2 separate regions of the Homo sapiens genome follow, and region 1 is linked to region 2. Evidence: fine-mapped expression QTL. Tissue or cell type: whole blood. Region 2 holds a variant in brackets; the other region holds the start of a gene. All regions are shown on one strand. Distances are from middle to middle.

The links. PIP is the estimated chance that this variant, and not a neighbour inherited with it, causes the effect.
Region 1: it holds the start of STAP1, and the variant in region 2 is fine-mapped to the expression of STAP1 in whole blood (TOPMed, PIP above 0.99).

The regions. Positions count from the first base shown.
Region 1 is chr4:67,555,487-67,563,597 of GRCh38, reverse strand. STAP1 (signal transducing adaptor family member 1) reads right to left here and starts at 4,871. Exons shown (of 9, transcript NM_012108.4): 1 at 4,669-4,871. The coding sequence starts at 4,788.
Region 2 is chr4:67,588,351-67,596,461 of GRCh38, reverse strand. It overlaps STAP1 (signal transducing adaptor family member 1), which reads right to left. Exons shown (of 9, transcript NM_012108.4): 7 at 5,509-5,578; 8 at 3,106-3,202. Among named protein-coding and RNA genes, the nearest start is that of STAP1, 34 kb to the right of the region's middle. The variant C/T (reference allele first, on the strand shown) is at 4,306.

The DNA.
Region 1 (8,111 bases), 33 kb after region 2:
CCGAGTACCTGAGAATACAGGGTGTGCCACCACGCCTGGCTAATTTTTTGATTTTGTAGAAATGGGGTTTCGCTATATTGCCTAGGCTGATCTCCAACTCCTGGCCTCAAGCAATCCTCCTGCCTTGGCCTCCATAAGTGCTGGGATTACAGGGATGAGCCAGCATGCCTCACCTACTCACTCATTTGTGAAGTGAATAAAATAATTTCTACCCAGAAGAGTTACTGTAAGGATCACAGTGACAGAACACTAAGAGCCTAGAATGGGATCCATTATATGTTATACCTCAAAAGGTTGCATTCATTATTATATAGTCCACTTAGTCATTGGAGCAACCTATTCAGCTATGCAAGAGAGTAATTATTCTTTTTAGAAAGGAGAGAACAGATTTAAAAATGTGAAGGAATCGCCCAAATTCTAGAATTGGACTGATACTTTTATCTCTTGACTTCCCAGTGCTCTTTTCTCATTAATACAACTAGCAAAAATGAATTAACTAGCAAAAATGAATTACAATGCAAGCTCCAGTTAAGTTTCTCTTCCTCTGTCCCCAATAAAAAGCTCTCATTCTTTGTTTTTGTGCGCAAGTAAAGTACATTTACCTAAGGAAGAATGTTGTATAGTGGTCTCCAAAATGGGATGCATAAATTCCAAAGGTGTGCAAGATGATCCATTGGGAGAGAAAATTTTAGAATATTTAATTATATTTTATTTCATATTTCTTAATTCATTTTTTATATATCAAATAATTTACATGGATTAATAGTACGGGAATATATATATTTATAATTTCCAAATGAATTAATATTCTTTTTTTGTTGTTTTTGAGATGGAGTCTCCCTCTGTTGCCCAGGTTGGAGTGCAATGGCGCAATCTCCGCTCCCTGCAAGCTCCGCCTCCTGGGTTCACGCCATTCTCCTGCTTCAGCCTCCTGAGTAGTTGGGACTACAGGCGCCCACCACCTCGCCCGGCTAATTTTTTTTTTTTTTTTTTTTTAGTAGAGACAGGGTTTCACCTTGTTAGCCAGGATGGTCTCAATCTTCTGACCTCGTGATCCGCCCGCCTCGGCCTCCCAAAGTGCTGGGATTACAGGCGTGAGCCACCACGCCCGGCTGAATTAATATTCTTATATTAGGGATCTGTGCTCAAAATGTTTTCCTGAAAGGAGTGTGTTATTTTAAAATTTGGAGATTACTGCCATAGAGAACTGTGTGTGAGCACAACTTAGACAGCCCTAAAAAATTTCCTTTTTTTTTGAGACGGAGTTTCGCTCTGTCACCCAGGCTGGAGTGCAGTGGCACGATCTTGACTCACTGCAACCTCCGCCTCCCAGATTCAAGCGATTCTCCTGCCTCAGCCTTCCGAATAGCTGGGACCGGGCCCGGCCCACACACACTGTTTTTTTTTTTTACTTTAGCACATCACAGATTGAAGAAATTATGAGACGTTGCCCAAACTATCTCTTATTTTCTTTCTTTTTCTTTTCTTTCTTTCTCTCTTTCTTTCTTTTTTTTTTTTTTTTTTTTTTTGACAGAGTCTCGCTCTATTGCCAGGCTGGAGTGCAGTGGCGCGATCTCGGATCACTGCAACCTCTGACTCCCAGGTTCAAGTGATTCTCCTGCCTCAGCCTCCCGAGTAGCTGGGACCACAGGTGCGTGCCACCATGCCCTGCTAATTTTTGTATTTTTAGTAGAGACGGGGTTTCGCCATGTTGAACAGGTTGGTCTCCATTTCCTGACCTCGTGATCCGCCCACCTGGGCCTCCCAGAGTGCTGGGATTACATGCATGAGCCACCGCTCCCGGCCCACCCACACTCTCTCTTATTTTCAAACGGTCCCAGAAAAAATGAGAAATTTTCCCATTTGTAAGAACTGCGATGCCAATGGTATTCCACTGTGGCATTTAACAGCTTTGATAATAAACACATCTTCCTGGTTAATTCAGAATCCTAGTGCTGTGGCTTAAATAAATCTTCCCACATTATCTTTTCCATAAAGATTATGTGTTTTTCATGGGTTCTTGACCTCAGATTTAGAAACCTTCTAGAATTGCATGCAAAATGGTATACGTTGTTACATTTTCCTGGGGAAAAGCTCTTTAAATACTTAAAAGTGCCCCACAAAAAATAGCTAAGAAGCACCTCTCAGCATTTCATGCCTTTATAGACCAGGTTACTCTTCAGTTATATTTTTTCTAGTTTAAATGTTCTGAATGACTTTGGCAGAGACCCAACTTTACATTCTGCAGAGCCTCTCACCTTCCTCTAGCCAATCAGCTCCAAAGATTACTTGGCTATATACCTTTGGCTCACCTTCTGTTCAAAGATTCCCTGGCACTTTGCTGCCAATTGCTTGGAAATTCCACTTATTTTGCTTAGATTTTTCTCATAGCTTCTATTTTCAAGTACTCTAATTATCACCATGCTCACTCTCCTTGGAGTCATATTACTTGCAGACCTCAAACTAATTTTAGTACCTGAATAAGAGTATGATAAGTGATGAAAGGGTAAGAGAATGAATCTAACCTTTAGTGTGAGCCAGGTGTTTTACATATGCTATCCCTTTAATCCCTGAAACCACCACATAAGTAGGTATTATTGTCATCCTCTTGCTCTCTTCTCCCTGACATACAAGTAAAAGGTACTTAGTGGTCTAACTCAGAGGCCCATGCCTGTAATTCTAGCACATTGGGAGGCCAAGGTGGGCAGGTTGCTTGAGCCCAGGAGTTTGAGACCAACCTGAACAACGTGATGAAACCCTGTCTCTATAAACAATACAAACGTTAGCCGGGTGTGGTATGCGCTTGTAGTCCCAGCTACTCAGGAGGCTGAGGCAGGAGAATCACCGGAGCCGGGGATGTCAAGGCTGCATGACTAGTGATTGCACCATTGCACTCCAGCTTGGGCAACAGAGGAGACACTGTCACACACACACACACACACACAGACACACACCCACACACACAAAGATACTTTACTATAAATTCAAATAGAAACACAAGTTAATTTCATTGGAAATATTTATGCCTATAGGTATTCATTCTGCTTCAAAGAATGCTTTCTAAGAGAAGGTAAAGAGTAGAAATTTGGTAAGGAAGACATCATTCCTACTATATTAAGCCTCTTGAAAATAAAATCTTTGTGTTTTTTTCCATATTCTCCAGAAATGAGTGATGCTTGGTGCATAGGAGGCACACAATAAATGTTGAGTGAATAAATTGATTGAACACCTACTGAATCCTAGAATGTACCTTAGGAGGCAAGTAGCAAGTAGTATACTCTCTATCTTATAGTTGAAACAGTCTCAAGGAGATTGAGTAACTTGCACAAGATCACAAGCTATAAGTGGCAAAACCATCAGATAAAGGACACTCTAAAATTCTTATTCTTTCTGCTAACCATACCAATGACATGTCTTCTTTAAGCATTTAAAAAAAACTGCTATCATAAACAGTTATTATAAATACCTTGGAAAACATTCAATGAACAACCTGATTTAAATTACTAATTAGAATTTTTTTTTCTCAACTTCCCTTTCCTGGCAAAGTGTGACTATGTGGCTTACCTGTGGTGACAAGATTGAATTTACATTAAAAGCATATAGGATCAATCTAAAAAATTCTAATATAACTGAAAGGTAATTATTTATGCATGTTTAACATCCATAACAGAATACAAATTACCATGTCTTTACTCTCAAATAGTAAATGATCTGATTATATATGTAAGAAATGTGAATATGCTATTATAGATTTTTCATATATATAATTTTTCCACAAGTATTCATAAATCCTCAGAAAATATATTTTAGCATCATTAAACATTTCTGATGGAATTTCTGAAAACCTTAAAATTTTTCTAGTTTTAGTCAGTATACAATTTCATAAAATTTGACCTAACTTAATGATTTTTTTATTTAATAACAGGCAATTTTGGGCTTATTTCTCTAATTAATTTCAAGTCATCCATAATTACTGTTTTAAAAGTAATGATTTTAACTAACTATAAGTTTTAATTATTACATTTAAAAATACAGAATGCTTCATGGATTTTCTTAGAGCAAAGGTATTTATGTAGCTTAGTGTACTTAATACCCACAGTAGTACCCCAAAAATTAAAAGTCACTATCTTGAATAGTATTTTAGAACACATAACTATATATAATGTTAAACAGTATGAACTTTGTCATTTTAACAATTTTTACAAAAGCCATTTTTAATAATTTGATCATTATAAACTTCAAATGACTCAGAACAGGAGCAGGTTTAATTTTAATCATGATATCATTTTATCTTAATGGTACATGTCATCATTGAAGCATAGCAATAAATTGTGGAGAAAATACAAGAAACATTTTATCTCCCAAGCCAAAATCTTTTGTGATATTTAAATAAATTCTTTGGAAATTTAGCTTATTGACTTTTTTATATTAGTGCCTTAATATTACAACCTCTGTTATTATACATATTATATATGTGTATACATACAGGTTTAAGCCAGACATTGTATTTAAATTATGAAAAATTGGAATCATTTTTCTGAGCTCAAAGAAGAGAAGATGATTTAATTTCAACAGAAACAAGGAGGTCTTAACACATCACATCACCATGAAATAAATATTAAATTAAAACAGAAGTCTTAGGTTTAACATTATCATCTATAGACTCACCCGGTATCCTGACCGCTTGATTAATAAAAAACCTTCAAAGTACAAAGGTAGAGCAGTAATCTTTAACCTTTCCTGGAAGATCCTGCGAGGGGCTGGTTTTGGGGGCTTCTTAGCCATCATACCCCTCTCTTTGGTGTGTGGTTTGGTTTCTCGTCTCAAACAAAATGAAATCTTCCTTCTGTGAGAGGAAAAGGCAACTGTTCAAAGAGGAAGTCCCAAATTGCTTTTTAACCACCAACACTACCACCAACAGGACACACACACACACAGACGCACACACACACACACACACTTTTTTTTCCATTACTTTTTGTGAGGTAAGAAAGAACAGGTGTAGACTGACTTTCAGAGGGCAATCTCTGGGTAATCCACATGTGCTTAGATTTAAAGCGCAAAATAAACAGAAGATTAACATCACCAGAAGATGAAAGAAACAGGTGTAGAGATTGTGAACTTTAGGGGAGATATCAAGAACACAGTTATTCTTTCTATCTTTGTTTTTGTTTATTGGTGTCCATTTTTATTTGCAGAAGACATGACTTGAATAAACTCAGCTTCATTAAAAATTACTTCATAGAATAATTTTATTAGTACTACTTCTGTTGGTTAAATATTTTAGGGTCAAGTTTTGTGTAAATAAAAAAAATAGTTGTATCTCATGCTCATTTGATGCTTCACTAAATATAAACCACAATTATGGGAACACGGAATATGGAATTTTTTTCTTTTTTCTTTCTTTCTTTTTTTTTTTTTTTTGCCAGTAGATATTCCAAGTACATGAGTTCCCAATGAATATTTAGTGCTATGTTTTGAATGTGTCCTCCAAAACTTATGTGTTAGAAACTTAATCCCCAATGCAACAGTGTTTAGAAATGGGACTTTTAGAAGGTGATTAAGTCATGAGGCCTCTGCCCTCATGAATGAATGAATTAATTAATGCTGTGGGAGTGGGTTTCTTTCTCTTTTTTCAGAGGCAGGGTCTTGCTCTGTTGCCCAGGCTGGAATACACTGGTGCAATCACAGCTCACTGCAGCCTTGACCTCTCAGGCTCAAACAATCCTCACACATCAGCCTCCTAAGTAGCTGGGACTACAAGGCACGCGCCACCACTCCTAGCTAACTTTTTCATTTTTTGTATAGACAGTATCTCCCTATGTTGCCCAGGTTGGTCTCAAACTCTTGGGCTCAAGCGATTCTCCTGCTGTGGCCTCCCAAAGTGCTGGGATTACATGTGTGAGCCATTGCACCTGGCCTGGAAGTGGGTTTTTTATAAAATCAAGTTTGGCACTTTCTCACATGCTATCATCCTCTCTTGCTCTTCTATCTTCTGCCATGGAATGATGCTGCATGAAGGTCCTCATCAGATGCTGGCCATGTTCTTTGACTTCCAGACTCCAGAACCATGAGCGAAATACATTTCTGTTCATTATAAATTACCAGTCTGTGGCATTCTGTTACAGCAACACAAAGGAGTCTAAGATATTTGGCAAAAAAATATCTGGCAGAGAAAGCTGTAAGTTTTCAAACTTTTATTTTGTTCTTTTGTGCTTTCTGAGCTGCAGACCATTGATACTATGATTCATGGATGGACTTCCCACAGTTATCTAGTGAGATTTATAAAGCTATACTGGGGCCAAAGTGCACTCAATGGTTGCATGTAGGAAATGGTCCTTAAGAGATTGGATTTGGCGTAGCACAGTGCAGGAAATGATGGGAGAAAAGAATACTAGAAGGAATTTTGATTTGTCTTACAGGGGTCCTAAGAATTTCTACCATTGCCTATTTCACACTCAGTATTTCAGAACTACTCTAGATTTAGAACAGCCTGGGCCCAGTGAGACCAGCCTATTATTAGAAATCAAAGCAAGTCAGGAGTCTTCAGTCTGATTCTCCTTTCCTAATGGAGAGACTGCATGGTTTTCTCCACCAGTATGGGTCCCACTGATCCTGCAGCTGTAGATATGGGATGACAAATTGTCTACAAAGTGAGGTAGAACAATACGGACTGATTATCAGTAAGTTAGAGAAGAGTGTTCAGATGTATTATCAAAATGAAAACAGCTCAAGACAGAAATAGGGAGTTGAAGATCCAAAATGACTGCTTTGCTTTTGTAAGTTTAGACCTGCTTCTTGCTACCCAACCTTCAAATAATAAAATATAAGTCCAACTGAATTTTTTGAGGCAAAAACCATAACTATTTTTTAGTTTCGGTATACTAAGAAAGTGACTTGAATAACAGGAAAACCTCCTGATTGAATATATGACCTAATCCACTTTCTTGGCAGCTGTTAGTTGTTGTAATACAGGGGGGAAGTGAAAGGAGGGATTAAGAATTGAAAAATGAAAAGAAGCAAGGATAAAGAAAGAATGCTGGGAATCATCAGTGATTACGCACTGACTTTATGGTCAGAAAGTTTCATAGGTGAGAGAAAATAATACCTCTAAAAAAATGTAAAGGGGATTTTTTGTTGTTGTTAAATAAGCACTTAGTTTTTTTTTTGCCTTTAAAATATAAGCAACAATTTAAAAACAGCTAATCAGACACAGTAAGTTACTTTGGTCTGCTGATTTGTTCGTCAAATTCATTCTTAATATACCAAGAATCAAATTATATCTCCCTGAAAAAGACTACAAAATGCAAAAATCTTGCTTAAACAATATTAACAAGTTAGTCCTGTCTGCAATGACTAGTGTCATTGCACCACTGCACCATTACAATGGAAATCCTCTTACAGATACCTCAAGTCTTAGGCAGTGAAGAATAAATTTGTAGGTAAGGAAATATAGTAGAAAATATGTTTGGACATAGGGCATAAACTAATTTTGCTACTAACCAGCTCTTGAGACCTTGAACAAACCACTTGACTTCTCTGGTATCATAGCTTCCTCACCTATACAAGGAGGCGATGGACTACATGACTTATTGTTTGAAGAGCTGCAAAAGGCTTTTAAGTAGTCTCCTAGTTTCCACTCTTTTTCTTCTTTGATTCATTTAATATTCAACCTAATCAAGATATTCCCCTACTGAAAAGACTTTAAAGGATTCTCATTGCTTTTGAGATTCCTTTTTAAATATTTTTTATTGAACACTAAATACTTATTGAATACCAACAATGGGCTCAAGCATGGCACGTTGGTCCTTTATAGCAGGGCCCCTTTTAAATAATAACTCCTCAAAATACCCTTTGCTCTGGTAATTTCATTTAGTCTCAGTTGCCTGAATACCCTATGATCTTCCCTGTCTCCTCATACCTTTTCAGTCACTGTACTCTGCTTAGATGCCCCTCCTTCTCTTTGTTTATATGGTAATGTCCTACTCGTCCTTCAAGACCCAGGCTGAATCTATCCTTAATTCTGAACATCTCCTAATTTCCTGAAGCTTTCTTCACCCCCACAAAAAAAAAAGTTATTACTCTCATTTCTGCTTTCCCAAAGCACTTTG
Region 2 (8,111 bases):
CAAAGTTGCTTTATAGCAGGACCCGACTCTGCCAATACCAATTCTTGTATTAGTCCATTTTCACACTGCTATAAAGATACTACCTGAGACTAGGTAATTTATCAAAGAAAGAGGTTTAACTGACTCACAGTTGTGCATGGCTACAGAAGCCTCAGGAAACTTACAATCATGACAGAAGGTGAAGGGGAAGCAAGACACGTCTTCACAAGGTGGCAGGAAAGAGAGAGCACAGGGAAAATGGCCACTTTAAAACCATCAGATCTCATGAGAACTCCCTCAGTATCAGGAGAACAGCATGGGGCAAACCGGCCCCATGATCCAATTGCCTCCTACCAGGTCCCTACCTCAACATTTGGGGATTACGATTCGAGATGAGATTCGGGTGGGAAAACAGCCAAACCATATCACTACCAATGAACAATGGAATTCAAATGTTACAGAATATCATTTACCAGCAACAAAAATTTAAATACCTATAAATCAAAATGTGTGCCAATGCTGTATGCTGAAACAAAGTACTATGAAAGAAATCAAGGACAGCCCAAATGTACCAATATATTGCATTCTTCAACTGGAAGACTCAATATTATGATGTCAGTTCTTCCTGAACTAATCAACAGATTCGACATAATCCAGTCAAAGTCTCAGGAGGATTGTTCTCTGGATGGCAACAGGATGATTCTAAAATTTAGAATGAAAGGCAAAGAAACTAGACTAGTCCAAACGATTTTGAAAAAGAAAAGAGCAAAGAACAAACTAATCCTCCTAATTTCAAGAATTACTACGAAGTTATAGTAATAGTAAGTGTGGCAAAAGGGTAGGAACATATATCATTGGAAATTAATCCGTACAAAAATGGTCAACAGATTTTTACAAATGTTGCAAAGACAATTCAATGGAGAAGCATTTATTTTTATTTTTACTTTTTAGAGAAAGGGTCTCACTCTTGCCCTTTCACATTGTGCATTGACACAGTCATAGTGCACTGCAACCTTGAACTTCTGGCTGCCTCACCCTCCCAAGTAGCTAGGACTACAGGCATGTGCTACCATACCCAGCATTTTTTTTTTTTTTTTTTTTTTTTTTTTTGTAGAAACGAAGTCTCCCTATGTTGCCCAGGATGCTCTCAAAGTGATCCTCCTGCCTTGTCCTCCCAAAGTGCTGGGATTATAGGTGTGGGCTGCCCTGTTCAGTGGGATAATCTTTTTAAACAAATGGGGCTGGAACAATTACCCATCTAAATGCAACTAAATGAACCTTGACACATCCCTCCCAGTTTAAAAATAATTCAAAATGTATCATAGATCTAAATGTGAAACATGAAATCACAGCACTTCTAAAAGAAAACAGGAAAATAGTCTTTGTGATTTTAGGTTAGGCAGAGTTCTCAGGTATAACACCAAAGTACAATCTACAGAAGCAAAATTTAAAACTTCTGCTCTCCTAAAGACACTGTTAAAAAAATGAAAAGACAAATCACCCACTAAGAAAATACTTCCCAATCACACACATGCACACACACAAAAAGCTTGTATCGGTTCAGAGCTCTCAAAACAAGCATGAAAGAAAAAACAACCCAATAAAAATATGGGCAAAAGATTTAAATAGATACTTTCCCAGATAAAATATATAATGGCAAATAACATATAAAAAGATGCTCAACATTATTATTCAGTAGGGTTATATTTTAAGTGACAAGTTTAAAAATTAGACAATGTAAAAAGAACATCAAAGATGAGAGTAAGAGAAATTCAGGAACCAATAATTTAGATGACAGAGAGTAAAAAACTGAGGGAAGACATTGTAGACATTTTTAAATATTTGATGGCCTTTTAAGTCGTATTGTTTCAAAGCCAGAAATTGGATTAATATGTAGAAGTTGAAGGAATGCTTCAGACTCAATATCAAGGAAGAATTCTCTAATATGAGAACTGTCCAGAAGTGAACTGTGCTGCTTCAAAAATCAAATTTAAGCCCTCTTACATTCACAATTTACAAACAAGCTGAAGGGGTCATATCCTAGAGATGTTTCCTGTACTGAATGTGCAGGTGAGTTCTAAACAGATAAGATACTATAATTTTCTAAAGTTCCTTCAGATCCTGAGAGTCTGTGGTTTTGGTTACTCTTATTATTTAGCATCACAATATTCATAATCATGTTTTAAGAACTTGGACTTTTAAACTTGCTATCCTTTTAATTAATAAGACTATCCAGATATGCCCCAATGCAGATAGCCAAATAAGGTTGCTTTCCCCCATAATCTGTAGAAAAAGAGACTTGTTTTGATAACTAAAATCCACACAAGCTGGAGATATTTTCTCTCTCCTGCTTACAGTTTGCCAGTGACCATGTGTACCAGGAACTGTTGCATAAGATAGAGAGAGACTATTACATTCAGCCTGGCTTGCTCTGCCAGAAGTTGGATTGCAAAGAGAGCCAGTTTCAAGGGTGTGTAAACTGTGCAGTTGCATAGGGTCTCATGCTCGGTTTGATGGTTTGCTATAACTGTTTTTGAAATTCTTAATTTATGAACAAGGGGCTGGCAAATTCTGTAGCTGGTCCTAGCTACAATCTTTATCTGTAATTCCTCACCACCCACTCATTCCTTGTTATTTTGCAATCTGACTTCTGCCTTCATAGTGGAATACAACTTCTCTCTCTCAAGTCATCTATTGGCTAATCACCAGTTTTCATCGTCTCTTCTTAATCTTCATTCATTTTATCCTGTATTACGCATCTAACGTTGTTGACAGACTATCCCTTTAAATTCCATTTGGTTTCCATTAACTTGTATGATTATGGTTTCCTCTTACCTCTGAATTTGTTAGATAAAGCTGAGTAGAATGATAGAATGAAGTTAATAGTAATACTACATACCTCAGGGTTTTCCATTCCCTAAAATGCACCCATACTCTGTTCATAATACATATTGGTACTTTCCTATTTTCACAGACTGAGTGACAAAATGATTTCCAAATGGATAAATTTAAAGACTGAACTACAGTTCCTGCCTGGCTGGTACTATCAATCATATGCAGAGTTTTGGGGATTTTGTTTTGTTTTGTTTTGTTTCCCTTAACATAGCAATGAAGTGAAAAACATACCAGTGTTTTCATCAGTTGAACATATAAATGGTCTTAAATTTCCTCGAGTCTCCTTCACAAAATAATCAATGACACTGAAAAGGTTTGGGAGTGTTACCTGTATTAATAGAGAGTGAGAGAAAACTCAGCATCACCTGCATAAGTATAGAGTAAGAGAAGGCTCAACTGGAATCTAATGGAGATTACTGTCATTACTTCACTTCAATGGCTTACTGTATGACCATAGTTTTACCTATCCCTGTGTCTTATTTATCCTTTTTAATTGACCATGTGTCCATTCTCTGTTGAGGAATTACCACCTTTCCCATTGAATACAATCTGGTAGACAATAGTTAGGTACCTTGCTCTCCCTCAATTAAAGCATAAGAATGTAAGCCAAGTGTGGTGGCTCACACCTGTAATCCCAGCACTTTGGGAAGTCCAGGTGGGAAGATCATTTGAGACCAGGAGTTTCAGACCAGCCTGAGCAACATAGCGAGATCCTGTCTCTACGAAAATTGAAAAAATTAGCTAGGTGTGGTAGCTTACACCTGTAGTGCCAGCTGCTCAGGAGGCTAAGGCAGGAGGATTCCTTGAGTCCAGGAGTTCGAGGCTGCATGAGTTGTGATAGTGCCACTGCACCCCAGCCTGGGTGACAGGGTAAGACCCTGTCCCTTAAAAAATGAGGGGAGCAAAAAATGTGACTCAAGTTAGCTAGAAAATGCTTTCTTTCTGAAATTTGAACTTGAGTAGAAGAACAAAGAAGGATCCAGTTTCCTAATCAGATGGTTCTTAGCACAAGTAACTGCGTCCTAGTCCCTGAAGGTTTGCTACCCTTCCAGTCATTCTATGTTCTTATAATAAATTTATTTTTTCTTAAGTTAGCTGTAGTTGGTTTCTTATGCTTTAAAGCAAATAACCTTTAAAACCAGAGAATTTAAGCATTTTAGTATTTTATTGTAACAGGATAATTTGCCGGTCTAGGAGTAGATAAAATGTGTCTCTACCCCTAAACTAATATTTTTATACAAATGAAATCAGAATAAATATACCAGATAACCTTGAAGAGGAAAAAGAATTCCTGAGCCAGGCGCAGTGGTACACACCTGTGGTTCCCGCTACTCGGGAGGCTGAAGTAGGAGGATCGCTTGAGCCCAGGAGTTTCAGGCTGGCACTATGATTGTGCCTGTGAACAGCCACTGTGCTCAAGCCTGGGCAACA[C/T]AGCAAGACCCCTGTCTCTAAAAAAAAAAATCACAAAAATACAACCTTACTGAGGGGTTGAGGAGTATGGTTGGGGAGGGTGAAAAATGAAAGAATAATCCAGGCTGTTAGTTTTCCTTACACTGTAGACTGTATGAGCTAATGACAGAAATGAGCCCCAGTTTACCCAGTTACAAAGATGACACATTATTCTTCCTTGTCCATTGCTTGTAGTCACTTAGTTATTTGGATTATCCTTTAGCAATCTAGTTTTCTGCCTTCTTTATTGAATTTTATTTTAAAAGTCTAGTCAGGAATGGATCTGATAACTGAGAAGCTTTGGGAGGCACTTATGGCAAAGATGTAAGTGTGCTCTATGAATCAGCAGCTACCTTGCTCTCTAAGAATTATGACCAAAATATAAAAAATTCAACCACACTGTTCCTTTTTCTACTTGATCAACACAATGGACCTGGAGAAGCAGAGGAACTAGGTAAATATAAATATCTTCAAGACCCACCAGTTCTATTTAAGATATCCAGAGACAACTTTCCTGACTCAATCTTCCCACTACTGCAGCCTAAAATCACAGAGCTATATTCTCTTTTTCAGCATCCTGGAATGTAGGCCACATCACCACATTCTCATTGGTTCAGAACAGTGTAAATACCAATTATCTCACCTGTATAAAAGGCATAACAATATCTACCTCAGGGTAATGATAACAATTACATTGGATGATATATGTCAAGTGCTTAGCTATATCATTAGCCCCATGGTAAGTCAGCTTGGGTGGGAGAAGAGTTCAAGACAAATAAGAAATGCTTTCTTCACTACTATGTTGCTATTAAGAGAGGATTTCTGAACTTCAGCAAGACAGGTATTAGAGGATTAGGCATTTACAGATTTCTTCCCATTAGAAATAAACATATTTGAAGATTTATAATTGGAGAATGTTTAACAAAAGTATCTTTCTTTCTCTGAATTTTTTCCACTTTTCTTTCTCTGCAAACCTTGAGAAATTTGCAGAAAAAGAAAAGTGGAAAGAATTTTTAGAAGCAAATTATATTTTACTCTGCCTCACCACCTGTTCCTGAATCTCACTTTTCACCTTGTATATCTGCCACATTCAGGGCTCCTTAACTTGGCTGCTTTTTGCCAGCACTAGGAGGCTATAAGGAATCGGGAGGAAGTTCATCAACAACAACAAAAATAGTTACTTACAGGTTTTTCCAGTTCAATAGTGTAGTTTTGTCCTACGCTCATCACTTTGTAGTGCTTGATTCTTGGAATGCTACAATGAAACAAATGGTTAGTCTCCATTTTATTATACAATTGGGTAAATGCAAACTAAAGTAAATATAAAATATCACCTGTATAATCAACCTATGTTGTCATGACTATAGTTTGGCAAAAAAAAAAAAAAAAAAAATCCTTCGTGGTTTTTTATTTTCTGTTTACCTGGTTTGCAGAGTGTCTTTTTGTGGGGGCTACTCACTAGGGATATAGGTAATCTGGGTCATTGAGTGGGTGAATTAGAAAGAATAAACAGGAAAAAAGGAATCAAGAATTAAAAATCTTTCAGGCAGAAATAATTCTTTTAATGTCAGTAACCTAGAAAGTAAACAACATAATAAAATTCTATGTAGGTATATAAAATCAAATATATATTCTCCATATTGAGAGAAGTAGAAAGAATTATTAAAAGTACATTGCTTTCTACCCTACATTGTCACCAATCCAACCAGAAACCCCTCAATAGCTGTTATTCATATTAGCTCATATACCACCCTGGATATCCACTAACTTTGGGGCTGACTTGGAGATATGGAAAATACTGGGTCTTAGGCACTATATGAACATATAGATGATAATGTAAGTACATTACATGAATCGTATTGTCTTCCTCTTCTATAGTCACATAGCACTCAAAATTATTACCACTCAAATACAGGGTATTTTATTGATTATGAACTGCTTATGAACAAGAGGCATATCCTATTCATCACTGTATTCTAGCATTAGGCACAGAATAAATATTTATAAAGTTGAGTTTTTAAAATATTAGGAGCTGGATGAGTGGGATGGCTCAGGCCTGTAATCCCAGAACTTTTGAGAGGCCAAGGCATGAGGATGACTTGAGCCCAGGAGTTAGAGACCAGACTGGGCAACATAATGAGACCCCATCTCTACAAAAAAATTCAAAAAATTAGCCAGGCATGGTGGCATGCATATGTGGTCCCAGCTACTCAGGTGTTAGGTGGGCGAATCATTGCATCCAGGAGATTGAGGCTGCAGTGAGCTATGATGGTGCCGCTGCATTCTAGCCTGGGCAACAGAATGAGACCCTGTCTCAAAAAAAAAAAAATTAGGATCCCCCACCTCATAATGTTATCTGCTAGAACTAAGCAAATTTACACTGAGATCAGAAGTCACTATCCTTGTCAGTTAGTTTTGAACCAGAGTATGTTTGTCTTGAATTCCCTTGATTTGTACGGCAAGCATGTTAGGATGAAAACTTTTTCTAGTGTTGACAAATGAACAGCATTTATTACATTGTCATTTGCTTGAATGACACACTAATTAAGCATTTGTCCTATGTACAGAAGCTGTCTAAAACAAAAGTGTTCAGCAGGTTAAGCTAGGCACAGGGTCTTTCTACCTTCTTTTTTTAAATCGCTTCTCCTTCCGTTTTCATTTAGGACTGAAACTGAAGTCTTCTATTCAGGGGACTCTTCTCATTCACCATTATATCCAAATCACCTCTCAATTGGACATCACAATGGAAACAGCTCATAAATTCCAATAACCTACTTTCAAAACATGGGATAAAACCCAACCAACCCTTTTCCTTCCTAAAAGAAAACATTCCTTAACGCTGAAACTTCAGGAATCAGTTACAAGTTGGTGAAGGAAGCATTTTTGGACACAGAAGGTCATACAGCACCTTTTCAGGGTGGTTATACCTGGCTTTATCTTTATCACATCATAATAAGATCTTTGTAATCACACAGTTACTTTTGAAAACTCTACAATTTCAATTACAATTCCTGTATTCCTATTAAATAAGGGATTGCTGTTCGTTGGAAGACTGATAGAAAACTTGGTTCAAATTCTGATTGTCATGTGGGTTCTCTGAACCTCCATTTTCTTCATCTATAAATGGAGATGGTGCCTTGCCTCAAGGGGCTGCTGTGAGTTAACCTTTGCAAAGCCCTTAGTACAGTGTCTGGCACATTTAAGCATTCAGTAAATTATAACCATTTTTACTACTTCTTAAATGTATTGTTTTAATGTAGTAGTTTCTGTGAGTCTCATCCTCTTCATTTGTAAAACATGGAAAATACTGTCTGTCTCAAAGTTTTTATTGCGCCTGAAGGAAATGTTTGCCAGTACTCAACATAGCACCCACAAATGGTAACCTATAAGGAGAACAACGATTGTTGTTGTTTTTAAAAGCCATCATATTGGCCGGGCGCAGTGGTTCACGCCTGTAATCCCAGCACTTTGGGAGGCTGAGGCAGGCAGATCACGAGGTCAGGAGATCGAGACCATCCTGGCTAACACGGTGAAACCCCGTCTCTCCTAAAAATACAAAAAATTAGCCGGGCGTGGTGGTGGGCACCTGTAGTCCCAGCTACTCGGGAGGCTGAGGCAGGAGAATGGCGTGAACCCGGGAGGCGGAGATGGCAGTGAGCCGAGCTCGCACCACTGTACTCCAGCCTGTGAGACAGAGCGAGGCCCCGTCTCAAAAAAAACAAAAACAAAAAACAACAACAACAACAAAAAAAAGACATCATATCATCATCATCATCATCATCATCGTC